Homo sapiens: one gene and its partners. The protein of the gene in region 1 purifies or fractionates together with the protein of each later gene. This does not show direct contact. Each region holds a gene or a part of one and is shown on either strand. Other genes may lie near its edges. The genes, in order: PMEL, TPCN1, CLCN7, CMTM6, MAN1A2, ANTXR1 and GTPBP2.

Evidence for each region.
Region 2: the proteins of PMEL (region 1) and TPCN1 purify together in Homo sapiens (affinity purification with mass spectrometry; 2 studies listed by BioGRID and IntAct, with this or other methods). This does not show direct contact.
Region 3: the proteins of PMEL (region 1) and CLCN7 purify together in Homo sapiens (affinity purification with mass spectrometry; 2 studies listed by BioGRID and IntAct, with this or other methods). This does not show direct contact.
Region 4: the proteins of PMEL (region 1) and CMTM6 purify together in Homo sapiens (affinity purification with mass spectrometry; 2 studies listed by BioGRID and IntAct, with this or other methods). This does not show direct contact.
Region 5: the proteins of PMEL (region 1) and MAN1A2 purify together in Homo sapiens (affinity purification with mass spectrometry; 2 studies listed by BioGRID and IntAct, with this or other methods). This does not show direct contact.
Region 6: the proteins of PMEL (region 1) and ANTXR1 purify together in Homo sapiens (co-immunoprecipitation; 3 studies listed by BioGRID and IntAct, with this or other methods). This does not show direct contact.
Region 7: the proteins of PMEL (region 1) and GTPBP2 purify together in Homo sapiens (affinity purification with mass spectrometry; 2 studies listed by BioGRID and IntAct, with this or other methods). This does not show direct contact.

Annotation. Positions count from the first base shown.
Region 1 is NC_000012.12:55,959,143-55,963,042, forward strand, and holds part of PMEL (melanocyte protein PMEL isoform 3 preproprotein), read right to left. Parts: intron 2,591-3,900; coding exon 2,480-2,590; intron 2,322-2,479; coding exon 2,175-2,321; intron 1-2,174. UniProt on the Homo sapiens protein: Forms physiological amyloids that play a central role in melanosome morphogenesis and pigmentation.
Region 2 is NC_000012.12:113,273,125-113,277,024, reverse strand, and holds part of TPCN1 (two pore channel protein 1), read right to left. Parts: intron 3,794-3,900; coding exon 3,735-3,793; intron 3,457-3,734; coding exon 3,357-3,456; intron 107-3,356; coding exon 1-106. UniProt on the Homo sapiens protein: Intracellular channel initially characterized as a non-selective Ca(2+)-permeable channel activated by NAADP (nicotinic acid adenine dinucleotide phosphate), it is also a voltage-gated highly-selective Na(+) channel activated directly by PI(3,5)P2 (phosphatidylinositol 3,5-bisphosphate) that senses pH changes and confers electrical excitability to organelles.
Region 3 is NC_000016.10:1,457,775-1,461,674, reverse strand, and holds part of CLCN7 (H(+)/Cl(-) exchange transporter 7), read left to right. Parts: coding exon 1-72; intron 73-204; coding exon 205-270; intron 271-726; coding exon 727-859; intron 860-1,147; coding exon 1,148-1,257; intron 1,258-2,487; coding exon 2,488-2,568; intron 2,569-3,900. UniProt on the Homo sapiens protein: Slowly voltage-gated channel mediating the exchange of chloride ions against protons. Functions as antiporter and contributes to the acidification of the lysosome lumen and may be involved in maintaining lysosomal pH.
Region 4 is NC_000003.12:32,496,145-32,500,044, forward strand, and holds part of CMTM6 (CKLF-like MARVEL transmembrane domain-containing protein 6), read right to left. Parts: intron 1-3,900. UniProt on the Homo sapiens protein: Master regulator of recycling and plasma membrane expression of PD-L1/CD274, an immune inhibitory ligand critical for immune tolerance to self and antitumor immunity.
Region 5 is NC_000001.11:117,366,091-117,370,248, reverse strand, and holds the start of MAN1A2 (mannosyl-oligosaccharide 1,2-alpha-mannosidase IB), read right to left. Parts: upstream 2,801-4,158; 5' UTR 2,066-2,800; coding exon 1,764-2,065; intron 1-1,763. UniProt on the Homo sapiens protein: Involved in the maturation of Asn-linked oligosaccharides. Progressively trim alpha-1,2-linked mannose residues from Man(9)GlcNAc(2) to produce Man(5)GlcNAc(2).
Region 6 is NC_000002.12:69,177,092-69,180,991, forward strand, and holds part of ANTXR1 (anthrax toxin receptor 1 isoform 1 precursor), read left to right. Parts: intron 1-3,900. UniProt on the Homo sapiens protein: Plays a role in cell attachment and migration. Interacts with extracellular matrix proteins and with the actin cytoskeleton and thereby plays an important role in normal extracellular matrix (ECM) homeostasis.
Region 7 is NC_000006.12:43,626,352-43,630,881, forward strand, and holds the start of GTPBP2 (GTP-binding protein 2), read right to left. Parts: upstream 2,914-4,530; 5' UTR 2,812-2,913; coding exon 2,626-2,811; intron 2,566-2,625; exon of another isoform or gene 2,438-2,565; intron 2,239-2,437; exon of another isoform or gene 2,208-2,238; coding exon of another isoform or gene 2,166-2,207; intron 991-2,165; exon of another isoform or gene 928-990; intron 598-927; coding exon 571-597; intron 60-570; coding exon 1-59. Other genes in the region: MAD2L1BP (MAD2L1-binding protein), read left to right, coding at 3,399-3,418.

The DNA of each region.
Region 1 (3,900 bases):
GCTGAGGTGGGAGGACTGCTTGAGGCATGGAATTCAAGACCAGCCTGATCAACATAGCAAGACCCTGTCTCTACAAAATACATTTAAAAAAAATTAGCCAGGTGTGGTGGTATGCACCTGTAGTTCCAGCTACTCCAGGGGCTGAGGAAGGAGGATCACTTGAGCCCAGGAGGTTGAGGCTGCAATTAGCTATGATCACACCACTGTACTCCAGCCTGGGAGAGAGAGAAGGACCCCGACTTTAAAATAAATAAATAAATAAATAAATAAAATAAGAAAAATAAAAGAAAAAGAAGATATATGTATATATATATAGCCACATATCAAAATATTTAGAGTGATTTGCTCTAGCTAGTGGAATAAAAATAACAGCACTAGGGGGCCAGGCGCAGTGGCTCACACCTGTAATCCTAGCACTTTGGGAGTCTGAAGCGGTTAAATCACCTGAGGTCAGGAGTTCAAGACCAGCCTGGCCAACATGGTAAAACCCTGTCTCTACTAAAAATACAAAAATTAGCCAGGCGTGCTGGCGGAAGCCTATAATCCCAGCTACCCAGGAGGCTGAGGCAGGAGAATCGCTGGAACCTGGGAGGTGGAGGCTGCAGTGAGCCAAGATCGCACCACTGCACTCCAGCCTGAGCGACACAGCGAGACTCTGTCTCAAAAATAAATACATAAATAAATAACAGCACTAGATAGCATTTATTTAGCCTTTACTGTAGGCTAGAGCAGACACTACATTAAGTACTTTACACATATTATCACATTCTAATCCTTACAACAATCCTTTTATCTTCGGAAATGGAAACACAGTGAGGTGGGCAGATCACTTGATCTCAGGAGTTTGAGTCATCCTGGATAACATGGTGAAACCCCGTCTCTACTAAAAATACAAAAGAATTAGCCGGGCATGGTGACATGCGCCTGTATCAGCTACTCGGGAGGCTACTCCCAGCTACTCAGGAGGCTGAGGCGGAAGGATCACTTGAACCCAGGAGGCAGAGGTTGCAGTGAGCTGAGATCCTGCCACTGCACTCCAGCCTGAGCGACACAGCCAGACTCTGTCTCAAAAAAAAAAAAAAAGAAAAGAAAAGAAAAGAAAAGAAAAAAAAAGAAATGGAAACACAAAACAAGTAACTTGCCCAAGGTCACATATCAAGGACAAGTTTAAATATAGGTCTGTTCAACTTCTAGGTCCCCTGAATTCTGCTGTCCTCCACTTTAGGGACTGTAATTTTCTTTTTTCTTTTTGAGACAGGGTCTCACTCTGTCACCCAGGCTGAAGTACAGTGGCGTGATCATGCAGTCTCGACCTCCCAGGCTCATGATCCTCCCACCTGAGACTGCTAAGTAGCAGGGACTACAACTGTAATTTTCTTTTCTTTTTGCTTTCTGTTTTTTTTTTTTTTTTTTTTTTTGAAATGGAGTCTCGCTCTGTCGCCCAGGCTGGAGTGCAGTGGCATGATCTCGGTTCACTGCAAGCTCCACCTCCTGGGTTCACGCCATTCTCCTGTCTCAGCCTCCCAAGTAGCTGGGACTACATGCGCCTGCCACCACGCCCGGCTAATTTTTTGTATTTTTTTTTTAGTAGAGACAGGGTTTCACCGTGTTAGCCAGGATGGTCTGGATCTCCTGACCTCGTGATCCGCCCGCCTCGGCCTCCCGAAGTGCTGCGATTACAGGCGTGAGCCACCGCGCCCGGCCTTCTCTGTGTTTTTAAATTTTAACTACAATGAGTATGTATTACACATATAACTTGTTTTAAAAATTAAAGGAGGAGGCCGGGTGCGATGGCTCACGCCTGTAATCCCAGAACTTTGGGAGGCCGAGGCGGGCGGATCACAAGGTCAGGAGATGGAGACTATACTGGCTAACACGGTGAAACCCTGTCTCTACTAAAAATACAAAAAAAATTAGCCGGTCATGGTGGCAGGCGCCTGTAGTCCCAGCTACTCGGGAGGCTGAGGCAGGAGAATGGCGTGAACCCGGGAGGCAGAGCTTGCAGTGAGCCGAGATTGCGCCACTGCACTCCAGCCTGGGCGACAGAGCGAGACTCCGTCTCAAAAAAGAAAAAAAAAAAAAAGTAGAGAAGGAAGGGGCATTCCCTGAGCTCACTGGGCATACCAGGGAACCTGAGCCCTAGGAATAAGGACCTAGAATAGAGAAGTACTCACCATTGATGATGGTATTGTTGACCCAGATAACCTGCCCATCTGGCAATACCTTTTGGCTTCCAGGGAAGTTCAAGGCAATAGAGAAGGAGGCATTTGCACCAATCAGTGTAGGCCCATCATTACTGACCTTGAGGGACACTTGACCACCTGGGAAGGAAAGCTACATTAGCTGGGACTCCTGGGCTTCCCCTCCCTGTATACGTTTCCCCTCCTTTTCTTCCCAAGCTACACTCGATGCAGTTCAGCTTGCTTTTTTCCTCATCCCACTCCCACCATGCCCTCCCCTGGAACTTCCAAGTTCCTACCTCTCCAGCAGTCAAGTCTCTGGGCTTCTGTCCACTCTGGATACAGCTGCCTGTTCCAGGCTTTGGTTCTGAGTTGCCTTGAGACACCAAGCCAGTCCTGGTTTCTGGGTACTAAAAGGAATGTGCCATGAAGGGCCCTAGGATCCTTTCAGTTCCTTCTCAGGGATAACACTCTATTCATGTCACTCCATTCATTCTCACATTCGAAGTGCATTTTTTTTTTTTTTTTTTTGAGATGGAGTTTCGCTCTTGTTGCCCAGGCTGGAGTGCAATGGCATGATCTCGGCTCATTGCAACCTCTGTCTCCTGGGTTCAAGCGATTCTCCTGCCTCAGCCTCCTGAGTAGCTGGGATTACAGGCATGTGCCACCATGCCAGGCTAATTTTGTATTTTTAGTAGAGATGGGGTTTCTCCATGTTGGTTGGTCTGGTCTCGAACTCCCGACCTTAGGTGATCTGCCTGCTTTGGCCTCCCAAAGTGCTGGGATTACAGGCGTGAGCCACTGCGCCCGGCTGAAGTGCATTTTTAAAACTCATTTATTTGGCCGGGTGTGGTGGCTCACACCTGTAATCCCAGTACTTTGGGAGGCTGAGGCGGGTGGATCATGAGGTCAAGAGATAGAGACCATCCTGGCCAACATGGGGAAACCCTGTCTCTACTAAAAATACAAAATTAGCCGGGCATGGTGGTGCGCACCTGTAGTTCCAGCTACTTGGGAGGCTGAGGCAGGAGAATTGCTTGAACCCGGGAGGCAGAGGTTGCAGTGAGCTGAGATTCTGAGATTGCACCAGTGTACTCCAGCTGGCGATAGAGTAAGACTCCATCTCAAAAAAAAAAAAAAAAAAAAAAACACAAAAAACCCCTTATTTATTTGTTTATTTATTTATTATTACTCTTTTTTTTTTTTTTTTTTTTTTTTTGAGATGGAGTCTCGCTCTGCCCCCTAGGCTGGAATGCAGTGGCGTGATCTTGGCTCACTATAGCCTCCGCTTCCTGGATTCAAGCAATTCTCGTTCCTCAGCCTCCCAAGTAGCTGGGACTACAGGCACCCACCACCACACCCAACTAATTTTTGTATTTTTAGTTTCGCCATGTTTCATGGTTTCTCCATGTTGGCCAGGTTTGTCTCAAACTCCTGACCTCAAGTGATCCAACCGCTTCGGCCTCCCAAAGTGCTGGGATTATAGGCGTGAGCCACTGCGCCTCGCCTGTTTTGTTTTAAATCAAGACATAATTCACATACCATAAAATTTACTTTTAGCCAGGCATGGTGGCTCACATCTGTAATCCCAGCACTTTGAGAGGCCGAGGCAGGTGGATCACAAGGTCAGGAGTTCGAGACCAGCCTGGCCAAGTGAAACCCTGTCTCTACTAAAAATACAAAAATTAGCCGGGCGTGGTAGTGGGCACCTGTAGTTCCA
Region 2 (3,900 bases), about 57 Mb from region 1:
TGAGCAGGCGGTAGGCATGCTGGATAGCGGTTCGCTTGTGCAGTAGCAAAGACTTGAACTTGCGTTTCTCAATGTCATTGAAGGTGTCGAACACCACAGCCAGAAGCTGTGGGAGAGAAGCACAGAGCCCTAGCTCAGGACCTTGAGTGGTTAGGGCAGGGAGTGCAGGGGGGTATGAGTTCATCATCTAGGCAAGGCTCTTACCCAGTCACCCCAGAGAGGCCCTGGGGAGACCCTCTCGCCTGCACCTCATGGGGTAGGAAGTCAGTCTCCCAAGTCTCAACAGAGGAAGGCCCTTTGTTCCGCTTGTAAATTTCCCTCTTCAGATACATGAAGGCATTGTTACTCCATCTTTCCCAGGTTCCCCTCCACTTTCCCACACTCCTTTCCCCAGTTCCAGCTACAGCTTGTCCCAGGCTGCGCAGGGGCAAGCCAGGGGAGGAGAGAGTAGCAAGAGGGGCGCATCTGGATTCTGAGCCCAGTCCGACTCCAGCCAGTGGCAGGCGGAGGCTGCCTGCCCACTGCCCTCCTGACCTCCGATCCAGAAGGACCCTTCCTCCCCCTGCCCCTTTGTTACTTCTCCTTGTGAGTCACTGCTTCACGTGTGGCCCAGGAAAAAGGGGAGTGAGAGGCTCTGCATGCAAGGAAATAACGTTCTAGAGTTGGCTAATACCAAAAGTTAGCTTATCAGAGGGGGATGGAAGGCCGGGGAAGAACTTGAAAGAATCCTTTTTAGAAACACTTTCTCTGTCTTTAAAAATGTTTTAAGGGAAACTCTCTGGTCCTTTCCCTCAAACTGGTCCCCCATTTTTTCCCTGTGGATCAAAGGTCAGCATGCTTTTTCTGTAAAGGGTTCGACAGCAACTGTTTTAGGCTGTGAAGGCCAAATGATCTCTGCTGCGACTACTAACCTGTGGTCATATCATGAGATCAGCCACAGACTATACATGAACAAATGGGCATGACTCTGTCCCAATGAAACTTTATTTACAAACACAGGCCATGGGCCAAATTTGGCCAGCAGGTCGTACTTTGTTGACTGCTGCCCTAAATTTTCACAGCTCTAAATATATTATGAATTAAATCAAATACAAAGAAGTACTCAACATATTTCTTCTTGGTTTTGAGGAATTAAAACAAGAAAATATTTTCTCAGGCCGGGCACGGTGGCCTGTAATCCCAGCACTTTGGGAGGCCGAGGCGGGTGGATCACAAGGTCAGGAGATTGAGACCATCCTGGCTAACAAAGCGCGAAACCCCATCTCTACTAAAACTACAAAAAAAATTAGCCGGGCGTGGTGGCGGGTGCCTGTAGTCCCAGCTACTCGGGAGGCTGAGGCAGGAGAATGGTGTGAATCCAGGAGGCGGAGGTTGTAGTGAGCCGAGATCGCGCCACTGCACTACAGCCTGGGCAACAGAGCAAGTCTCTGTCTCAAAAAAAAAAAAAGGAAATATTTTCTCCTTTTTAAGACTTAAATTTTGGCCAGGCACTGTGGCTCACACCTGTAATCCCAGCACTTTGGGAGGCTGAGTCGGACGGATCACCTGAGGTCAGGAGTTCGAGACCAGCCTGACCAACATGGCAAAACCCTGTCTCTACCAAAAATACAAAAATTAGTCGGGTGTGGCGGCATGTGCATGTGCCTGTAGTCCCAGCTACTTGGGAGGCTGAGGCAGGAGAATCGCTTGAACCTGGGAGGCGGCGGTTGCAGTGAGCTGAGATTGCGCCACTGCACTCCAGCCTGGGTGACAGAGCGAGACTCCATCTCAAAAAAGAGAAAAGGACTTAAAATTTTTTAGATTTCACAAGTCTACCTGGAAAAGATGATTTTCATTTCTATACTGGGCCTGACTGTGGTGACTGGTGTGAGAATGCTCTGCAGAAGCATAAAAATAAACACAGGACTCGATCGGAAGCCTCTCCCCGTTAGCTCTGCCATGGATGTGTGGTCTGGGCACCGGCCTAACAGCCTGGTGTCGGATGTGATCTGTGATGGCTGGGACACTCCTGGAGGCTGTCCACACCTCCACAAACACCCTCAAAGTTCTTTGAGCACAGAGGCTTTACGTTCTCCTTCACAGAACGTGTTCTATACTGGATTTTCTGATGGTTCCTGATAAGTGAGGTAGAAATACACAAGACATTTCTGGCACGTGAGTGCAACTGAACAGAGTGGTTAGGAACAGGGCTCTGGGATGAGCCTGGCCTGGCCACTCCAAGCTATGTAGCCATGGGCAAATCACACTGTCACTCTGACCCTCAGTCTCTTCATCTGCACATGGAGAACCATACTCACTACCTCCACGGTTGTGTTTATTTATTAAATTATTTCATCCTCATATGTAAAGCACTTTGCATAGTGCCAAGTGGCTAAGGCTTACTAAATGCCAGCTTTTATGGTTATTATAATATACTTGGCCTTCTTTATCTGTGGGTTCTCCATCCATGCATTCAACCAACCGCAAATCAAAAATATTCCAAAAAGAAAAGGATGGTTGTATCTGTACTGAACATGTACAGCCTTCTTTTTCTTGTCATTATCCCTAAACAATATAGTATAACAATTTTTTTTTTTTGATACAGAGTCTCGTGCTGTTGCCCAGGCTGGAGTGCAACGGCATGATCTCGGCTCACAGCAACCTCCACCTCCTGGGTTCAAGCAATTCTTCTGCCTCAGCCTCCTGAGTAGATGGGATTACAGGCACCCACCACCACGCCCAGCTAATTTTCATAAGTAGAGACAGGGTTTCACCATGTTGGCCAGGCTGGTCTCGAACTCCTGACTTCAAATGATCCACCCACCTTGGCCTCCCAAAATGCTGGGATTACAGGCGTGAGCCACCATGTCCAGCCCAGTATAACAACTATTTACATAGCTTTTACATTGTATTAGGTGTTATAGGTAATGCAGGATAATTTAAAATATATGAGAGGATGAATGTACACAGGTTATCTGCAAATACTCTGCCATTTTATATAAGGGACTTGAACATCTGTGGATCTTTGTACCTACAGGGGGTCCTGCAAACAATCCCTGTGGACACCGAGGGTCAACTGCTTATTTCTGATGTAAGAATGAAAAGGTCCCAGGGTTGCCTGGGTTTCACATCCAGCACTACCAGCATCAGCAGCATTGCCTTGGTGAGGACGCCACCCCCAGCAACTGGCTGAACTCCTGAAGTCCCGACAGGGCATTCCCTGCAACACCGCACCTGACTATGAATCTGGGACTTCCTGCCCCAACGTTCTGCCCTGAGAGGCAGAAGACAGTCCCCACTTCTCCACTCCCACAGTGCCTAGTGCTGCATGGGTAGGGGCAGGCTGCTTCAGCGTAGCCTGAGGCATAGTCACTCACCAGGTTCATGATGAAATACAGCTCGATGGAGAGGTACACGATGAAGAAGACGCAGGACCAGGGGTTCCGGGAGTAGGAGGGCATCATCACATCTGGGAAACTGTATTTGCAGAGGGTGACCCGGCGTGCTGTATCTGCCTGTCTCCATCCTCTCAGAGCACATGCCTTGCAGAGGACAGCTCCTTGTCTGCCTTCCCAGCCTCCAACCCTGGTTCCCCTACTCTCATCCCTGGGCTCCGTGCTCAGTGGGCCAACCCTGTCTCCCAATAGCACCACAGCACCTGCCTGTGCTGGGATGTGGAATATACTTGGCAGAAAAGAGAAAGAGACCCCAGGGCGGCAGCAGAGGACCAAAGGCAAGGCAGAGCCTGCACTTACTTGGCTGTGGTCAGAAGGACAAACAGACTGACGATGCTGTTCTCCAGGGTGCTGAAGTACTGCAAGGGAAGAGAGGGCAGAGAAGTCGGGACCAGCCAAGAGCACACGGCCATCAGGAACAGGCTGTGATGGGCCACCTGGCATGCCCTGCCTTGACCGCTCTTGC
Region 3 (3,900 bases), on another chromosome or scaffold:
GATATGGACCCTCCACATCCCTTCCCCAAGGAGATCCCACACAACGAGAAGCTCCTGTCCCTCAAGTATGAGGTGGGCGTCCTTCTGTCCCCCTGACCCTGAGACCCGGCCTCTGCCCCCTGCCAGCCCACTCCCGGTCCCCTGTGCCCGCACCCAGAGCGTGGGTTCGGTGCTGAGTGCTGCCCTTGCTGTCCCGGCCTGCAGAGCTTGGACTATGACAACAGTGAGAACCAGCTGTTCCTGGAGGAGGAGCGGCGGATCAATCACACGGTGAGCTGGACGCCGCTCCCTGCAGGGCCCCACGGTGCGGGGCCTGGTGCCGGCCGGGCCTGGGGCTGCTCTTCTGCCGGGGTGAGGTGACGCACCTCCTCCCTCCTCCTCTGACTCCGCCTCTGAGGCCTGTGGTTCGTCTGGTTTCTAGAGACAGTGGGAGGGTCACGGTCACCGTAACCAAGAAGGCTGCTCTTACGGCCGCCAGATGCGGTGCCCAGCATAACAACCGCTGGCTGTGAAGTTGTTGGGAATTCACCCACCTCCCCGAGTCACCCTCGGGCCCCGGGTGCGCCTCAGATGTTGGCCAGAAACTGTCCTTTGTGGGACTCAGCGCACCGTGCACACTGGGCCCTTCATAATCCCGGGGCCTGCAGGCGGTCTGGGCGGTCCTGCTGCTGCCAGAGTGACTGCGCCAGGGCCCTGCCTGACCCTCGCCCTGACCGCGCCCTGCAGGCCTTCCGGACGGTGGAGATCAAGCGCTGGGTCATCTGCGCCCTCATTGGGATCCTCACGGGCCTCGTGGCCTGCTTCATTGACATCGTGGTGGAAAACCTGGCTGGCCTCAAGTACAGGGTCATCAAGGGCAGTATCCTTCCCAGTGCGGCCGCTGCAGCTTGGGAGGGGGGCGTGGCCTGGGCCGAGTCCCGGGCAGAAGTCCTGAGCCCAGCGTGTTCCAGTGCAGGTGGAGGCGGCCCGGCCAGGCTGGCTGTGTCCCTGTCATGGTTGGGCCGTGAGACGTCTCTGGGATGTCCAGTGAACATCATGGCTCCACCCAGCAGGGTGGCATCTGCCAGGCTGGTCTGTGGGGCAGGGCTGAGGTCTGGGCTGGGTGGTCATGACGGGGAAGCAGCCAGCCCTCCTTGATGAGCCCCAGATATCGACAAGTTCACAGAGAAGGGCGGACTGTCCTTCTCCCTGTTGCTGTGGGCCACGCTGAACGCCGCCTTCGTGCTCGTGGGCTCTGTGATTGTGGCTTTCATAGAGGTGGGTGGCAGGATGCCGCAGCTATGGCGGACCCCATGAAGGATTGGGGGTCTTGGTGAATGGGCGGGAACCCCTGCAGCTCACCCACCCCCACCATCACATTGGCTGACAACCCGGGCACTTTTAGAATCACGTGGTCCAGACTCACAACCTCAGGAGGAGCAGACACACCAGGGCCTCTTCACCCCCAGAGCCCTGGGGTGCTGCTCCTGACCTACCAGCACAGGCCTGGGCACCCTCACCCCACTCCGCCCCTCCTTCCATCTCCTCACTCTGCCCTCCCCTCCTTCCATCTCCACCTCCGCCTCCACCACGTCCTTGATCTGTGTCTGGGCTGGGAAGAGTGAGAGCAGCTACCCCAACGACATGAGACCCTTCCCTGGGGCCCCAACGTGTGTGCTGCTCTTCCCTTCCCTGAGGCCCCGACGTGTGTGCTGAGCTCCCCTTCCCTGGGGCCCCGAAGTGTGTGCTGCTCTCCCCTTCCCTGAGGCCCCGACGTGTGTGCTGCTCTCCCCTTCCCTGAGGCCCCGACATGTGTGCTGAGCTCCCCTTCCCTGGGGCCCCGACGTGTGTGCTGAGCTCCCCTTCCCTGAGGCCCCGACGTGTGTGCCGCTCTCCCCTTCCCTGGGGCCCCGAAGTGTGTGCTGAGCTCCCCTTCCCTGGGGCCCCGAAGTGTGTGCTGAGCTCCCCTTCCCTGAGGCCCCGACATGTGTGCTGAGCTCCCCTTCCCTGAGGCCCCGACGTGTGTGCCGCTCTCCCCTTCCCTGGGGCCCCGAAGTGTGTGCTGAGCTCCCCTTCCCTGGGGCCCCGAAGTGTGTGCTGAGCTCCCCTTCCCTGAGGCCCCGACATGTGTGCTGCTCTCCCCTTCCCTGGGGCCCCGAAGTGTGTGCTGAGCTCCCCTTCCCTGAGGCCCCGACATGTGTGCTGCTCTCCCCTTCCCTGAGGCCCCGACGCGTGTGCTGCTCTCCCCTTCCCTGATGCCCCGACGTGTGTGCTGAGCTCCCCTTCCCTGGGGCCCCGACGTGTGCGCTGCTCTCCCCTTCCCTGGGGCCCTGACGTGTGTGCTGCTCTTCCCTTCCCTGGGGCCCCGACGTTTGTGTGCTGAGCTCCCCTTCCCTGAGGCCCCGACGTGTCTGCTGCTCTCCTCAGCTCCTGGGGCTCCTGGGGCTGAGGGGCTGCATCTGTCTCAGCCTGGCCGTGACCCACTCAGCCGTGCTTCCCCTCTTTCAGCCGGTGGCTGCTGGCAGCGGAATCCCCCAGATCAAGTGCTTCCTCAACGGGGTGAAGATCCCCCACGTGGTGCGGCTCAAGGTGAGGGTGCGGTGGCCCTGGCTGGGCAGGGTGGGCGCCCGCTCTTTGCTGGTTCAGGAGCAGCTCTCTTGGCTGCCTGCCTTCCAGAACTGGCCTCAGCCACCCTGTGTACTGGTGGCACTGTGTGCAGATGGGCTGGCTGGGTGTGAAGGGGTCACCTTTTTTTCTGAAAGTGGTAACAACTGGTATTTGCACATATTAAATTACGTAAGAAATGAGTAGTCATACAGAAATGCTTGCGTGGTGCATGTGTGACACAGCTGTGCGACGCGTCTGTGACTGTGGGCTGCGTGGTGGTGACTGATTCACCGTGGAAGCTGTCGTGGTAGTGGGCGTGTAGCAGTTTCCCGCTTTCAGTTTGCCTCATGGTCATTTACACTTGGTGTTATCAGAGCATCTGGTTCTGGAGGTGCTGGGAGTCCTGACCCAGTTCCGCTGTGGTTGCTTCTGTCTGTGCCGCCATCGTTCCTTAGCCTGAGACTTGCCGCAGCCCCGTCCCGTCTGAGGATGGGTGGGCAGCATGGCCGCTGCCCCCTGGGGGTGCTTCCGGGGCCTGGTCCCCGTGGCCAAGGAGCGGGACCAGTGTGTCCCCTCTGGCGAAAGCTCCCAGGTGACCTTGGGGTGCCCCTGCCCTGTGGTGGGAGATCAGGTTTACTGGAGCAGCTGGGAATGGCGACCCGCCTGTCACCCGCGCCAGGCTGGCCTGAACCTTCTTGGATGTTGCTCTATAACTTTTGTTGGCTGAGGGTTGAGTTTGCTCGGCATCTTTAACATACAGTCCTCCCCCACACACTCAGCGCCCTTGTGTTTAGGGTCTGCGCCCTTGTGGGTTCTGCCCTGGGGCAGGGAGGCTGATAAACACCTTACACACCTTCTCAGGTGGAGAGGATGAGGCCCCTGGGGGCGGGGAGCAGCCGAAGGGAGAGGGGGCATCGTGGAGCCGCAGGTGACCAGCCTTCCAGTGCCAGGGGTGTATGAGGAGCCTTGCTAGGCGGGGCTAGCGGGAACACCTCCCCTGTGCTGGCCACGCTGGCGGAGGCAGGTGTGCCTGTAGGATGCGGTGGGCGGCCCAGCTTTGCCTCAGGAAGGAAGGAAACGAAAGAACCCCTTGCCTGCTCAGTGCTGAGGCCACAGAGGGCAGGTCCCCCGAGTGAGTGCGGGGGACGCTTGGCTGCTGTTTAGCTCCACTGTGGCCATGGGGAGACCCAGCCTGGGGGTGCTGGCCCCCTCCCGGAGGCCCCGTGTCCCAGCCACTCTGCCTGATCGGGGCTGTGTGTGCTGTTTTACGGCTCAGGTCCAAAGACAGCGCCTGCCTTTTCATCAGAGGCCATG
Region 4 (3,900 bases), on another chromosome or scaffold:
GAGCCAAGATGGCGCTACTACACTCCAGCCTGGGTGACAAAGCGAGACTATCTCAAAAAAAAAAAAAAAAAAAGTGTGGACATTTACTAGCTCCCATCTCAAGTTAAAGGCCAACAAATTGGCACTACAAGCTATAGTCAATATGAAATTCTGTCGGCCAGATGCGATGGCTCACATCTGTAATCCCAGCACTTTAGGAAGCCAAGGCGGGAGGATTGCTTGGACTCAGGAGTTTGAGACCAGCCTGGGCAACATGGTGAAACCCCATCTCTACCAAAAAAAAAAGAAAAAAAATTCTCTGCCTACCCATCTCTGAGGCTACTAACCTTTGTAAGCTCCCACAGCATTATGCAATTGCTAGCTCAAAGTGTACTTGAACTAGCAACACTCCAACACTGTTCTACGTATAGGAAGATACAAATGATGGAGTAATAAGCTCAATGTACAAGAAACAATAATAACAATATATTTTATACCACATTAACTGAGCATTCATTATATGTAGGTTAGAAAATCTCAAGAAAATGTTCGAAGGAGCCGGAGAAGGATGAGTGGAAAAGCAGGACTCAAACCAGGCAGAGACACAAACAGAACCTGGATAGACAGAGGACATTCTAATTCTAGGTGGAGGATGAAAAAGAACATATTCATAAGGGCAAGAATTTGCATAGTAAATCCAAAAATGATAATAAGGCAACTGACCTAACTGGATGGGGATGAAGAAAAAAATGGTTTAGGAGTTGGGTGTGGTTGTGTGATGATCATGCAAGGGAATATGGATGTTTAGATGAAGGCAGGAGGGAACACCTGTCTGGTTTAGTAGGTTAGAAAACAGGAGGAACAGAGGATTGGGTGGGGCCTAAAGGAATTCTACAGTTCCGAGTGTAGGAGGGAAAAGAGCAACTAACTTCTTATCAGCAAGCCACAGGAAGTGTTTTTAAAAAAAGAAAACTCCTACACCGGGCGCGGTGGCTCACGCCTGTAATCCCAGCACTCTGGGAGGCCGAGGTGGGCGGATCACGAGGTCAGGAGATCAAGACCATCCTGGCTAACATGGTGAAACCCCGTCTCTACTAAAAATACAAAAAAAATTAGCCGGGCGTGGTGGCGGGCGCCTGTAGTCCCAGCTACTCGGGAGGCTGAGGCAGGAGAATGGCGTAAACCCAGGAGGCAGAGCTTTCAGTGAGCCGAGATCGCACCACTGCACTCCAGCCTGGGCAACAGCGAGACTCTGTCTCAAAAAAAAAAAAAAAAAAGAAAGAAAAAACTCCTTAAAAAGCAGCAAGTAAACATACTCCAAACTGTTACTCATACCGTGACACCTGGTAGTGTGAGGGGTGGGAAAGTGGTTTTATTTTAATATTTTTAGTTGATTTTTTTTTTTTTGGTAAGCAGACACTTTCTTGTATTAAAAAGAAAAAAGTGTAAAAGTTGGCCGGGCGCGGTGGCTCACGCCTGTAATCCCAGCACTTTGGGAGGCCAAGGCGGGTGGATCACGAGGTCAGGAATTTGAGACCAGCCTGGCCAACATAATGAAACCCCGTCTCTATCAAAAATACAAAAATTAGCCGGGCATGGTGGTGCACGCCTGTAGTCCCAGCTACTCAGGAGGCTGAGGCAGGAGAATTGCTTGAACCTGGGAGGCAGAGGTTGCAATGAGCCGAGACTGCACCACTGCACTCCAGCTTGGGTGACAGAGCGAGGCTTCGTCTCAAAAAAAAAAAAAAAAAGTGTAAAAGCTGAAGGAACAATTTCGAGAAATGAGTGGTCACCAGCATTAAATGCCAAAGTGGTCAAAAATAGGAAGAGAGAAAAAATGTCACTGAATTAGCTAAGAAATTCATGGTAAACATAACCCATAAGTAAAAAGGCTCAATTATTATTTTTTGGTAAACAGTTTTGTTCTTAATAGCATGAAGTCATCATACTAAATATTGCTTACTGAATATTAAGCTAAGTACTTAACAACTGTATACCCAATGTAACTCCTTCTAATGACATAAAATTTTACCCAAATATAATTAAGAGAATTATCAAGCTTTTAATGTCAGGAGGGCCCTTAGCGGATATAGTCTCCCACTCCCACGTTTACAAAGATGGAATTAAGCTACTGACAGGTTAAGCCCCAAGTTAGCTCGGCACAGACAAGAACCCAAGTCTCTGACTCCCACTCTGTACTTCCTCTCTCCCCATGAAATACTGTTTGTTAAATTCCTTTTACGAGTATGTATGTTTGTGTAGGTCTTCCCTGTAAGACTGGCTTTTTGAAGTTAAACCCACAGTTCTGTATATTTCCTTTAATGTATTAAATCATACATTAAAAACAATTTGCTAACATCAACAGATTTGGGAAGTCTCAGTGACTAAAACATGATCTTACAGTTCTGGTGATTTAAACACTGGATAATTACTATCCTGCCTCTATCTCTCCATTTCAGTTTCACTACCCCTTCTTTTTTTTTTTTTTTTTTCTGAGATGGAGTCTCGCTCTGTTGCCAGGCTGGAGTGCAGTGGCACGATCTTGGCTCACTGCAATCTCCACCTCCTGCCTCAGCCTCCTGAGTAGCTGGGATTACAGGTGCACGCCACAATACCCAGCTAATTTTTGTATTTTTAGTAGAGACGGGGTTTCACCATGTTGGCCAGGATGGTCTCTATCTCCTGACCTTGTGATCCGCTCACCTCGGCCTCCCAAAGTGCTGGGATTACAGGCATGAGCCACCGCACCCGGCCTCAGTTTCACTACCTTTTCTGAAATTTCAAGTGTTCCTTAAAACGGTCACTATATTAAATACGAATTCTCCATTAATTTAACAGTCTACTACTTATATTTTATAAAAAGAACTTTTAAATGTTTGCCATTAATTATAAAGCTCCATCTACAAAATGATATGAATTATAAATTAATGAACTTTACTATTAAAAACTTTGTAGTTATAAGTAAAGTTCAAATTTAAAAATCCATTGGTCTGAAGAAACAGGCCAGGCCTCCCTTGCCTTAGGCAAATATTTACTCTTACAAAGGTTCAGATATAATTTGCTGACATTACGGGATCTTCCTCAAGGTAAAAATAGAACATTTCAATTTACTATACATCAGTTTTCATATTTAAATAATGAAAAGAGCATCAATATAAGAAATGCTTCCAAGTAATCTGTTTCTTGGTACTTATAGGGTAACATTATTTATAATGTAATATATTGAAAAATCACTGGCGATTTCTAAAACTGCTTGCCAGATGAGCGACTAGAATTCCAGTACTGTGCAGCTATCAGGATAGTCAACTGACAGCATGGATACAATGTGGAGCTTGTTGCACAGAAAATTCCACATATTTAGGTCACTGCACCAGCGTATCAGCAAGCAATTAGGTTACCAAACGTCAATTCTCCCCTTAAAACAAAAACTCCCTCAAAAACATTCACAAAATAAAACATGAACATGTGGACAAATCTAAGGATAGTATAAACTGAAAAACTGCATAAAGTTAGGACTCCAGTAACTCCTTACACTAAATTCTCAACTGAGTATTTCTTCTTAAGCTCTGGAAGGGTGGATGGTAGTTGGGGGATGCTTAGGGTTTTAACAAAACTTAGGTCATATCTAAATGGCAGACACAGCTATGTTAACTTCAAGAGATAGAGAAGTTACGTTCTTTTATCTCTAATCTCCTCTGTGTACAGGCTCCACTCTCTATCCCTTCAATATTCAATTCAGTTCTGTAATAGCAAACCCCATGGAGCCTCAGAGGTTTGAAAAAAAAAAAAAAACCTTAAGAGTGCAAAGAACCTCAGAGGTAATTCAATTCAACCTCCGAAGACTCTAATGTAAGAATTTCCTAAGTATATACACAATGTCTGGTTTTTAAGTTTTAGAGCAGGCTTTTCTCTTGTAGGATC
Region 5 (4,158 bases), on another chromosome or scaffold:
CAATAACCAATCTCTCATTCCAAACTCAGGAACCCAATAGTTTTAGATAGCTAAATACATATGCATATATATCCAAGGGCTTCATAAATTTAAGAATTCTTGTTTAAACTATTTATACAGACTGTTAAAAATGTGAATAAAAGGCACATATCTGTATTTTCATTCAAATTTCATATTTTAACTCCATTTACTGAGAATTTTTGTGTAAATGTTTTTAAACTAAAATGTGGTCATATTATTTTAAACTTTTAGACCATTCAAAATGTATTTTTTAAACTGCTTAGTACATGACAGATACTATTAATAATAGAGCTAAGTAATGTTAATGTGTGGCTGTTGTGAAACAGCTCTAAAAACAGCCTTAACACATTTTTTCAATATATTTCATATGTTATACAAATACCATGCGAAATAAGATTTTCAAGGAAAACTACTTTCACCGTTAATTTTTCAGTAACATATTTCACAGATCATATTAGTGTTTTCTTAAAGTCACAACAAGCAAAGTGCAAAATTAAAGAAACAAATACAGGAGTACAGTAGTCGAAAATGGCAAAAATTCCAAATTAACTTAGTTACAAAAGAATGGCATGAAACAATATTAGAAGTAACTACTCCATAAAATTCATCCAAAAGTCAAAGAACCATCACACAAGTAATGAATTAACTAGGTTGAGAAAAAAAGAAAAACCAGTTCTCATAAAACAGTGCATTTTCCCAAATATTTAATGTAGGCTTACACGTGAACCTAAGCTTTTTCGGTGCTTGACAAAAAGTTAAAACTATCATCAGATGGGAAATGAATTCAAGCACATGATTTTTTTTCCCACATACTCAAGAATTATTTTAAGAAACAAGGAAAAGATGGCAGGTTTAAGAAAAGTCAACTACTTTCCCAAACTCTTGAGTACAAATATAAAAATTATAAAAATTGTAACTAGAGCTCCCATTTTATCCTAGTTTGGCTATGCTCTCCCCAGAGCTCACTTTAGATTTAGTGATCTGAAAGAATGTGAACCCCTTAATCAACCAAATTCCAATAGTTGCTTGACACAGTCCATCTATTACATTAAAAGAGAGAGCAAAATTAAGTTTCACAAAAATAAATCTTGTCTACAAGCCTCACAAAGTGCAATAACTTAGGATTCAATACCTTTTAACTTAACTGATTTCATATACAGCACCAACACACATCCCCAAAAAAAGAACAAAAATCAGGATATTTTCACGTTAAGAAATGACAGGTATATTCTGCCCACGTTTGTCATCCTAAAAAGCTGACTCACTACTAAGCTTCAACTACAAGCCAGAAAACGAGAGCCCTCTGGGAGAGCACACCCAAAAGAGCTGTCAAGGTTCGATGCTTTGATTTCACATGGTGGCACAATGACTGACTCCAACACGTTATTAATAAATGCAGGCACAGCTTATGTCACCATTTCTTTAGGTTAAGTTTTCATACCTCCCTTCCCAGATGTCCACATTAGACACAACTCTGAACGCAAATGTTTTTCTTATATAAAACCGAAGAGAAGAACGACTTAGGTAGGACTCCAGTCCTACCAGTCTATGGACTCTACCATAGACTGGAGGTAGAGTCCCTCCAGTCTATGGTTTTATTCAGCCAGTCTTGAAGTAACAATACAATATTTATGACTCGAAAAATTACATTTTACTGCAAGAAAAAAAAAAGACAGATTCGATCCAATCACCGTACCTTGCTCTGCCAAATGTTAGTACCAGAACTTCTGAAATAAACAAACCTGTGTCTATGTTCATCGGGTCCATGGATCAGGAAGACTCCGGGGTTTTTAGCCCCTTTACCGGCATCTACATGTGGAATTAACACATCTTCTAAACCCAAATCAAAGCGTTTGTGTTTTGAAGAGTCTGGAAGGAAAAAGAATGCCCCAAAACACAGAGTGATGAAGGCACTAAGAATAAGGAGAAGAATAAACTTCTCAGAAAGTCTCAAGGTAGCCCTGTGATGTGGGAAGGAAGGCGGCCCCAGGTTCAGAGGTGGTATCCTACGTCCAGAGAGGGGCAGCAGGGCTGGGGTAGTCATCGTTTACGCTCTTGGAGAGAATACTTTAGAAAGTTCTCATCTTATGTCAAATGTAGAATACATTGAACTGTCTTCAAAATCTTGGCCAAAATGGGAAAACTCAATTTTGCTCCTCTTAAAGGACTGTTGTGCTTTTTAAGAGGGCACGTCATTCACGCCCATCCATTCCCACTCAGAAACGTGTGTGACCTCCCCCAAACGATCACAAGTTTAGGTCCTGCGATATCCTCTTCAACATCTGTACTTCATCGGATTATTACAAGCCTCCTCTTCATTCCTAGGGGTAGATCAGGCAAGCCACACTGCAGAAAAGCTGCAAGGTGGGTTCTTCCATTCCTGCACCTCAGTGAGATGCTCAAACGTAGTCTTCCGCCCCGAAAGGGAGACTGGCGACATCCGAGGAGTTGTAGAAGGTTCACTTGATCTCCTTCGACGCTTCTATTCCAGAATCTCTTAACCTTAGCGGTGGAAAAAATAAGGGTCTCCCACGGACGTCTGCAAACAGGGAGGAAGGTCTCCCACTTCGCTGGGAAGCCGAAGCAGCGGCGCTGGGCGAAGTAGCAGGAAGGAGTTCTCGGCCGCCCGCGCTTCCCGGCGCTGCCTGGCAGGAACCTGGCGCCCGGCTGAGTCCCGCTGCTGCCCACTCGACGGCTGGCGCGAAGGGCAATAGCGTCCGAAACACCTGAGTCCGGCCAGCCGCCGCGGCCGCCGCCGCTGTTGCTACCGCACGGGTCTGTCAGGGAGCGGAACTTCCTCCTCCGGCGGCCACTGAGAAGCCCCGGCGTGTCCTGGGGGAGGGGAGGCGCGGCGGCCGCCCCCGCCGAGCTCCTCCTCCTCCTCCTCCTCCTCTTCCTCCTCCTCCTCCTCCTCTCCGCGGCCGGTTCAGTGAACCCCGGCGCCTGCTCCCCGAGCTAGGCCGCCGGCCGCAGTGGCCGAGCCCTCGCGCCTAAGAAGCCGAGCCGGGGCCCACGCTCCGAGAGCCCGGGGTAGGCGCCGGCTCATTCCTCACTCAGCCCTGGAGCGGCGGGAGGGCCTGGGCGCGCGGGAGCAGCCGCGCCTCGGGCGGGCAGAGGTCGGCCGCGTCTCCTTCCTGCCCGGCCGCGGGGGCCTCCTCCGCGCCGCCTCCGGTGGCTCGCAGCTGCTGGCTCTGGCGGCGGCTGCCAGAGAGGCAGCGCGCCCACGCCGCTCGGGGCTGCGGCCCGGTCCCCGTACCCTGCCTCCCCAGGCCTGGTGAGCGCAGCAGCTGCTGGGCCGACACCCGTTGGGCTCACGCCGGAGAGGAACCGGAGGGCGGGGGCGATGGGACCCGGGCCGGCCTACCGGCCCCGGCTCGCGAGTGGGCGTCCCCGGGCGGCGGAGTGTGAGGTGCGCGCGCACGCTCCCGGCTCCGCTGCCGCCGCCCCTCCCCCACCCAGCCTGGCTGCCCGGGCTCCGGCCTCGCGCCGCTGCCGGCTCCAGCAGCCCGAAAGCGTACTGCTGCCGCCGCCGTCTGAGCGCGAAAGAAGAGAAGGTCGCCGATCTGCGCTGCCACGAGAACTTCACCGGTGCCCAGGGCCTTGCCACCGCCAGTTCGTGGGGTTGACCCAGCGTTTGGGCGAGAGGGAGCGAGGGGTTGGGTCGCGAAGGTTTCGCTGAAATGTAGTGTCACCGGAGTTAATGGCTTCTGATGGCTTAGGTTAACGTTTACTGTGATTCTTTGGAAGTCTTGTCTTCAGCGATAGACCGTCAGGCCCGAGGATTCAGCAACAGGGTCTCAAACTTCCACGCAGCAGCCCATGCTCACGTTATTGGGCCCCCGAGGCTCGATTAATAGAGCACCAACATGTGCCATGTTACGTTTTTAAAATAAAGTGGTGACCCTGCTCCTTCAGCTGGGCTTCCTTTCAGAGGAATCTAGGTACCCCCGATATGACAGGCGTCTCTTCATTGTTCAGTTTCTGGGGCACGTTCTATCATCTTCACACACCTCATCAACCCCCTTCCCATAAAAGAGAAAATGGATGAATAAGGAGGTGCTGAAACCCAAAAAGGCGACAATATTGTTTACGTTCAGGCTTAAAAACAATCTGAATCAATTCTGTTCTCCGTAGTAT
Region 6 (3,900 bases), on another chromosome or scaffold:
GTTTGCTTAATAACTAACAGTTAAACGTGTTGAGTGAGTGGAAGGTGGAGTTGTGGAAACTCATGAGGCGAGAGCATTGCATTCTCTGGGGAACCCGGGAGTTCTTGGCAGAATAGGTTACGCTTAAACAACATTAAGGGATGGGTAGAAGCAATGGGAGAAGGGCTTTCCAGGCATGTGGAGCCCTGCATGTTGAAGCGTGGAGCTGCACAAAAGCCTGGCATGATTGGGAAAGATGGGAAAAGTTCAGGGTCTGAGGACAGCACAGGGCTAATCCAATTACAGGCTAACCAAGTGAGTTCACAGACTTCATCCTCTACAGCTGTTTCTTCCTCGAACAGCACTGTGCCTGCAGGCACACCCAGGTCTGCCTGAGGACACGCAGGTCAGAAGGGGCCTCTACCATCTGAGGAATGTGCTGCCATTTGTGTTACCCAAGCTCCAGCCAGCTGGACGTCTGGAGCCACCACATCCTTTCAGATTTAAACACAACTTCCCTTGATGGGAAACCGGCCTCCCTCCCCAATCCCTGCGGTTTCTCCCAGGCACCACTGACTCCTACTCCTCGCTTCTTCCGCGTTATCTCATCTTCTCGGTTTGCTAGACACGATCTAGCAGCTCTGGCACAAATCCAACTGCGCAGCAAATTTTACTGAAGGTTTAAAAGTATAGTGCAGCCCACAACCCCTGACGGAATATTAAAGGGACTCTTATTTACCACCGGCCACCCCCACCACTCGGGGGGATTGGGGGTCGTAGCTGTTCACTGGTAGCTCTGCCCCACTCTGTTCTGCTCATCTTCTCATTCCCCACAAGCCCCTGATTTCTCATTCACAGCAATTGGGCTCATCCAGCCCCATCCTCCAATAACCATAGAGGACAGCAAGGTTTTTGTTTTGTTTTGTTTACTAAAGGAAAGCCAGCTCACACTGAGGATTTCTATACTGGTGTTTTCTCCCTCCCTGCTACCATCCTTGAAGGGCAGTGTAGGAGGAAGATCTCAAGAGCCTTTATGATTTAATGAGATGTAAAAATCCACCCTCCAGTGCTGCCGAGTTTCTTAGTGGCCTTGCTGAGGGGCTGGGATTCTACTCCGTCCATTTTTGGCCAAATGGAAAGACACATCAAAGATTCCCTTCTCTTCCTGGGGATTGCAAAACCCTTCTGTCTCCAGAATGTGTAAACAGACCCATGCTAACTGCAGGGGAAACTCTGACTCTCCCGTCCGTCAGCCCCTGGGCCTTTGTGCTGCCTGGTGCTGTTGTCTGAGCTTGGCAGGCCAGCTCCGGTCAGGGGATTAAGCGACGGGCTCGGTGGCGCGGCAGCGTGTGGAGATTGCCCAAGCCCTAGGCATTTCCTGTTGCGAGAAGGCCAGGCCCTGCCCTTGAGCACGAGGGCGGCGCCTCCTTCCCCAGGCCAGGGACAAGAGGGAGGAGCCAGGGACTAGAGGGAGGGGCCAGCGGCAAGAGGGAGGGGCCAGGGGCAAGAGGGAGGGGCCAGGGACTAGAGGGAGAACTGCCCCCGTGTGCAAGTGGAACCTGGAAAGCGGGGAAACCGGCTTCATGCATCTTACTATATCCTGAGCACTCAGCGGGGTTGCGAATTAGAGAAAGCCAGTTGTAAATCCTTCTTTAAGTTCTTTTCGTAAAATATAGGGGGAGAAAAACCCCTGGACAAGGCATCAGAAAACCACACCAGAACTTCACCTTTAGGGGTCACTTCATTTCTCTAGATCTGACTCCTCTTCTGTGCAGTGAAAAGACTTAATTAGATGAGCTCCTAAAAAATTAAGAGGCTCATGAACCTAGTTGAGTCCCCTGTGGAATAAAGCGGCTTTATTCTTGGAGTTTCTTAACGTTCGTGGTGCTGCTGTGTTCAGCTTTAGGGGATAGAATTTCTGTTATCTCCTTTGGAAAACTGCCCCAGACTGGGAATGCCCAGGCTTTCAGAGCCATATTTTGTATATCTGTGTTCACAGCCACTTACACAGAAACATACATCCACCTCCAATGTAAAGTTTAACCACATATAGGACATATAAGATTCCTGCTTTCACATCATAAGGTGAAAGAAACCTCGGAAATTCTAAGGTAAAGTAATATGAACTATAATATTTTATTGTGTTGGGGACTTTATTTTGTTATATTTTGCAGTTATAAATTATCAAAATTAAGTCCATGTGCGGTGGCTCACACCTGTAATCCCAGCACATTGGGAGGCTGAGGTGAGAGGATCACTTGAGCCCAGGAGTTTGTGACCGGCCTGGGCAATATGGCAAAACCCCATCTTTACAAAAAATAGAAAAATTAGCTGGGTGCATTGATATGTGTCTGTAGTCCCAGCTACTCAGGCAGGCTGAGGTGAGAGAATTGCTTGAGCTGTGGTAGTTGAGGCTGCACTCCAGCCTGGGTGACAGAGTGAGACCCTGTCTCCAAAAAAAAAAAAAAATTATCAAAATTAGCAGGTACAAGGAGAAGTCAAAAATGAGCGTGTATTTGTTGCCATCAAATGATTGGAAAAGCAAACCACAAAAGAACAAAATCCAGACTGGCCAATGCTGAGAAACAATCAAAGGAGAATGAGGTTGCATGAGTTCAAATCCAGCTCTGTCACATACAAGCTGGGTGACCTAAGTCATTTAACGTCTCTATTCTCGTTCTCTAAAATAGGAATAATAACACCATGTACCTTCCTGGGTGGTTGCAAGATTAAAGGATTAATAATACATTTAAAGTGCTCAAAAGAGTGACTGGCACATAACATGGGAAAGGCTGCATAAATTCAATGGTGTGTTATCATGAATGCAATATGTGTTTATCGAGCACCTACTTTGCACTTAGAATACAAGGGTCAGCAGAATCTGAGAGCGAGCAACCAAGTAAGAGAGAGAGAGACACCCAAGTGTCAGCTGTCAGAATGTTGTACGTCCTAGTCTGCTGTGACCTCTCTGTCCTTTAAGATGTATTAAATTTTTTGAAAATCATTTTAAAGAAGACTGCCCATCCCAAGCACAACATGTAACTCAGGGAGTCTTAATGTGCCAACATGTTTCTGCTTTGCTTTGTCACCTTTTGTCCTGACCTCTCCTGCCTTTGCTTTTTTGCACCTTGCCTCCTGCATGGGGTGCCCCATCCCACGCAGTGGTGCCCTGCATAGGACTTCACCCAAATGCCACCAAAACAAGGCTGTGAGAAGCAGGCTTCAGCATTGTGAGCAATTTCTCCCTCTTTTGTTCATTCCTCTGCTTTATCAACCCCTTTTCCAGCTTCCTTTCTCTACCCAGGAGAGAAATCATGCCACTTCCTTATAATCCATCCATGACTATAAATGGTGATATTTTTCTCCCCACAACAAGAATAATTACAGTGCCAAGATGAAGAGCAGTTGCTACATCTCCTCCCTTTTTCCATCCACAGTTACAAGTTCCTCATCTTCTTTCTTCATCTTAAAAAATATAAACACTAACTTCTTGTCACTGAGCTAAGTTGCAGACACTTAATTAACTGCTTTATTTGAGTCATCTTATTTAACTTATTTGTAAATTCAACAGATAATTCTTGGGCACCCACCACATACAACATAGTGCTATTCTAAAGACTGGGAATACAATTGTAAGCATGACAAACAAAAGCCTCTGTGGAACGTACGTTCTAGTGTGGAGAGACAGATATTAAGTAAATATCAAGCCATGATGAGATCCTTAACTAAAAATAAAACAGATTGATGGAATGAAGAGACCGCGGCTACTTTAGAAGAAATTTCCAGGGGAGGTTTCTCTGAGGAGTAATATGAAAATCCATCCATCAGAAGATGGGGTGGGGGAAGTGCTTTCCTAGACAAGGGGACAAGGGGACACTGTGCACAGGCCCCAAGACAGGAATTTGCCCAGAGTATTTGAGA
Region 7 (4,530 bases), on another chromosome or scaffold:
CACTTCATTTGTGTCACCAGGTGCTCAAAGCGGTACTGGGATGGATTCACCAGCTTCAACTTAGGGCAAGTGGGGTATCATAAGGTGAAATCAGAGGTGTTCCTCCCAAACCTACATGGTCCCCACCTGTTCTGCTGCAAGGACCAGGACTTTCTCTTTCCACTTAAACTCATACCTGATCCCCCTCCAACAGAACGAGGTACAGAGCCCTTAACCTGAACCATATCCTTAAACTGCTATAATTATGAAGTTGGAAGGCTCTCAGAGAACTTATCCCATGCTGGTGGATCACCAGAGGTCAGCAGTTCGAGACCAGCCTGACCAACATGGAGAAACCTCATCTCTACTAAAAATACAAAATTAGCCAGGCATGGTGGCGCATGCCTGTAATCCCAGCTACTTGGGAGGCTGAGGCAGGAGAATCTGAGATTGCGCCACTGCACTCCAGCCTAGGCAACAAGAGCAAAACTTCATCTCAAAAAAAAAAAAGAAAGAAAGAAAAAAGAAATTATCCCACACTGGCAAGGACAACCTACCCCAGCCCCTGCTTTTCCCCAGCCTAGGACTCACTTTATATTCAATGTTTCCATCTTCAGCCTGAAAAGAAACAGTGAGCAGTTACCATACACTGTACAGACCCAATCCCTACTTCCCCTCAATTCCCACTGGGTCCAGGTAGCTAACTTGAGAAAGCAGGAAGCCCCACTGGCACTTGGTTAGGCAAGTGCCTGTCAAAGGTCAGTGGCAGACAAGATCCTCTATTCACCCCCAGCATAGCCTCTATGAAGGGAAGGCCTATAAGGACACAAGGAGTCACCCATTTAAGCCAGGAACAGAACACTGAATCAATCCATTCTTTGATCACTGGCAGCACGTTCTTCCTAGATGCAAGATCATCCCTTCCTCCCCACCTCCAGGGCCTCAAACCTGCTTTTCCCAGAAGTCTATGTCTCCTCTGTGCCCAGGCTGTTAAAACCTTTCTTTGTCACTGGTCTAGGAAACACCATTTCCTCCCTGCCTGCCCCTTTCAGCTGATGTCATCTAGAGTAAGAGGCTGCAAGAGGTTCTGGATCAGAGCCAAAGGGTGAGCTCAGCAATGGTCACTACAAGCCTGATGACCGAGAAGATCTAGGTGAGAGAGGAGAAGAGCTCCAAAGCTGGGGCTGAGAGGAACAGAAAAACTCAGAAAATGTAATGAAGCGGACAGACTCGCTATGGCCTTTACCTCTTGCCCCCTAACCTCAGTGGAGGTGAAATCCTGAATCCACCCCACAGTCTCTTCTAGCTCCAGTGGGTAGCACAGCACAGAAGCACCCTGTTACCTGAGGCTTCCCCTCCCAGGTACAAAGGGATATGGGATTTGCCTGTTTGGCCAGTCTGCATTTTTCTACCCGCCTCTCTGGATATTTTAGTTTTCCTCTTCCCTTCCTATCATTCCATCCCTTCAAGGCTGTCTGGCTCCCAGGCCCTAACAGGTCTTCACTCATAATCTCCACTTCATGGTGTGTTAAGGAGATTATTTTTTTTCCCCATCAATAAAAACCTTTTAATCATTTTTCTGGGGATGGGTGGCTTCAAAAAATGTGGTACAAGAATGACAGTCTAGGGCCCAGACCAATGGTTCCCAAAGTGAGGTCCTGGGACCAGCAGCATTAGTATCACACGGGAACTTATAAGAAATGCAAATTCTCAGGCCCATCCTCACTAGTAAGAAAGAATCAGAAATTCTAGGCTGGGCACGGAGGCTCACGCCTGCAATCCCAGCACTTTGGGAGGCCGAGGCGGGTGGATCACCTGAGGTCAGGAGTTTGAGACCAGCCTGGCCAACATGGTGAAACCCCATCTCTACTAAAAATACAAAAATTATCTGGGCGTGGTGGCGGGCACCTGTAATGCCAGCTACTCGGGAGGCTGCAGCAGAAGAATCGCTTGAGAACCCGGGAGGCCGAGGTTGCAGTGAGCTGAGATAGCCCTACAGCACTCCAGCCTGGGTAACAGAGACTCCGTCTCAAAAAAAATAAATAAATAAATAATAAAAAAATAAAATTGGCCAGGCGTTGGGGGCCAGCAATCCGGGTGATTCGATACATGCCAAAGTTTGATAACCACTGGCTTAGGCTGTGTGTGTGTGTGTGTGTGTGTGTGTGTGTGTGTAGTGAACATACTGCTCTTTTCCCGAGTACTGTGTGTGTGTCCGTGTGGAACATATTGCTCTTTTCCCGGGTACTCCCCTTCTCCCTGTGGAACAAGTTTAGAAGAAGTGGTGGTTACTGTCTGCCTCTCGTCCCAGGATGCAGTCTCTCTTGCCCTATGGCGGCACACGCAGTTGGTCGGGGTGCTCTTCCTGGGATCCCCTTTCTCTACTTCTCTCCTGGGGTAATCTAGATCAGAAGGGGGAGTCCTCCCTCTCCACTCTTCCTCCCTGAGGTCCTGTCACCTGAGAGTCCAGTCTCTGCCCTTCCTCCCTGGGGTCCCGGGACCTGAAAGAGGTGTTCTCCTCCCGTGCCCCTCCTCCCTGGGGTCTCGACACCGGAAGGGGAGATTAATTATCTGGGTCCCGCCTCCCTAGAGTCCTGGGCCGGAAAGAGTGGCTTCTTCCCGCCCTACCACTTCTCAGGTGCTCACCTCGGGGGGCAAATACGGGGGGTTGTTGGCTTTGCCCCCTCTGTTCCTTCCGTTCTTCTTCTTTCCCTTTGGCCCCCCGCAGCCGCTGCTGCTGCCGGCCCCCCTAGCCTTGAGGGTTCCGCCCACGGCCGGGCCCCCTCCGGGCCGGCAGCAGCCGCCGAACAGCTCCGATACCCGCGAGTCCATCCGCCGCTGCCGCCAGCCCCCCGCCCGGCCCCTCCCCCGACCGCCGCCGCCGTCGCCGCCGCCCTTACTGCCACTGCCGTGTCCGGCCGGCCTGAGCAGAGTGGGGTGGGGCTCTGCACAAGCTACGCCCCCCACCTCCCTGGCCTCCGGGTCGCGTCAGAAACAGCCGCGGGGCACCACGGGATATAGAGTCCCCAGGCCTGGGAATTCACTTAAATGACACGTCGCCGCCCTACAACTCCCAGGAGGCATCGCGGCGCAAGTGGCCGCGGGAGTCGTCGGAGGCGTGGGGAAGGAGCGCGCCTTGGCGCGCAAAGGCTTAAGGGAGCTGTAGTCTGACTTCCAGTCCTCGCGCTATGTTCTTTTTCTAGGACTTGGGGGGAATTTAGAGCCTCGAGGCCTGGGGTGGGGACGCGAGGACACCAGCGTAGAAGAGCTTACATCAGAATCGAGCTTTGTGGGCGCTCCGGGATTTGGCCCTTTAGCGCGGATCCTAGACAACAGGTTTTGGACCTCGAGAGCTGCAGAACTGAGGCTACTGGTGCCGCCAGCCTGCTGGCTCCGCCTCTGCCTCAGTTTCTTCCCCTATGGCCCGCGTGCCGCTGGGGTGAGTCAGGGCGAACGCCAGGGCGGAGGCGGATGGTGATTAGCCAAATTACGGCTGTTATTGTTGGGATGATTATGCTACCTTTACATAGTAGTCACTGCTTTATTACCAGGCTGGCACCGTCCAGGGGCTGGTTTTAATAACCGGAGGCACCGCGGTGGCCCCGACACGAGACCCGAACCCGTAAACCAGCTTCCTCCCCGAAGGCTGCAAGCATACCCAAAGCGAGTATTCCTCCTCCCCTTTGTTTTGAAGCAGAACCAATCGGGAAGAACTGAGTTTGGTTTTAAACGGCCAAGACTGTAGGAGGGGCCTGGCCCCTACTTCGGGCGGGGCTAGGGCTCGGGTTACACCAACCACCACGAGGGCGGGGCAGTGGCCGGGAATAGAAACTTGGCCTAGGGCCACAGGGGATTTTTGGCTTTTGACTCTCTTGTGAAGCAATCTCCAGCTCTTTAGTGCTGTTGCACTCTACAGAGTACATACATTCAGCGACATAAGCCAGTGCACAGAACACAGAAAGGCAGGGTGGAAAAGCAGTTATGTTGCTGAGCTGCGAGTCAGGACGCTAGGGCTCAATTCACAGCCGCATGGCTGTCTCATGACTCAGACCACTCACAGTGTGTCCACTTCTCCCCTCTTCTCGAACTGCGAGGTGCTCATACACGGTCAAGAAATTAAACAACTCAGCCGGGTGCGGTGCCTCACGCCTGTAAATCACAGCACTTTGGGAGGCCAAGGAGTGTGCGGATCACCTGAAGTCAGGTGTTCGAGACCAGCCTGGCCAACACAGCGAAACCCCGTCTCTACTAAAAATACAAAAATTAGCTGGGCGTGGTGGCGCATGCCTGTAATCCCGGCTGCTCGCGAGGCTGAGGCAGGAGAATCGCTTGAACCCGGGAGGCGGAGGTTGCAGTGACCCGAGATCACGCCATTGCACTCCAGCCTGGGCAACAGAGCGAGACTCCAACTAAAAAAAAAAAAAAAAAATTAGCCCAGCATGATGGTGCACATCTGTGGTCCCAGCTGCTCGGGAGACTGAGGCAGGAGAATCGCTTGAACTCGGGAGGTAGAGGTTATAGTGAACTGAGATCATGCCACTGCACTCCAGC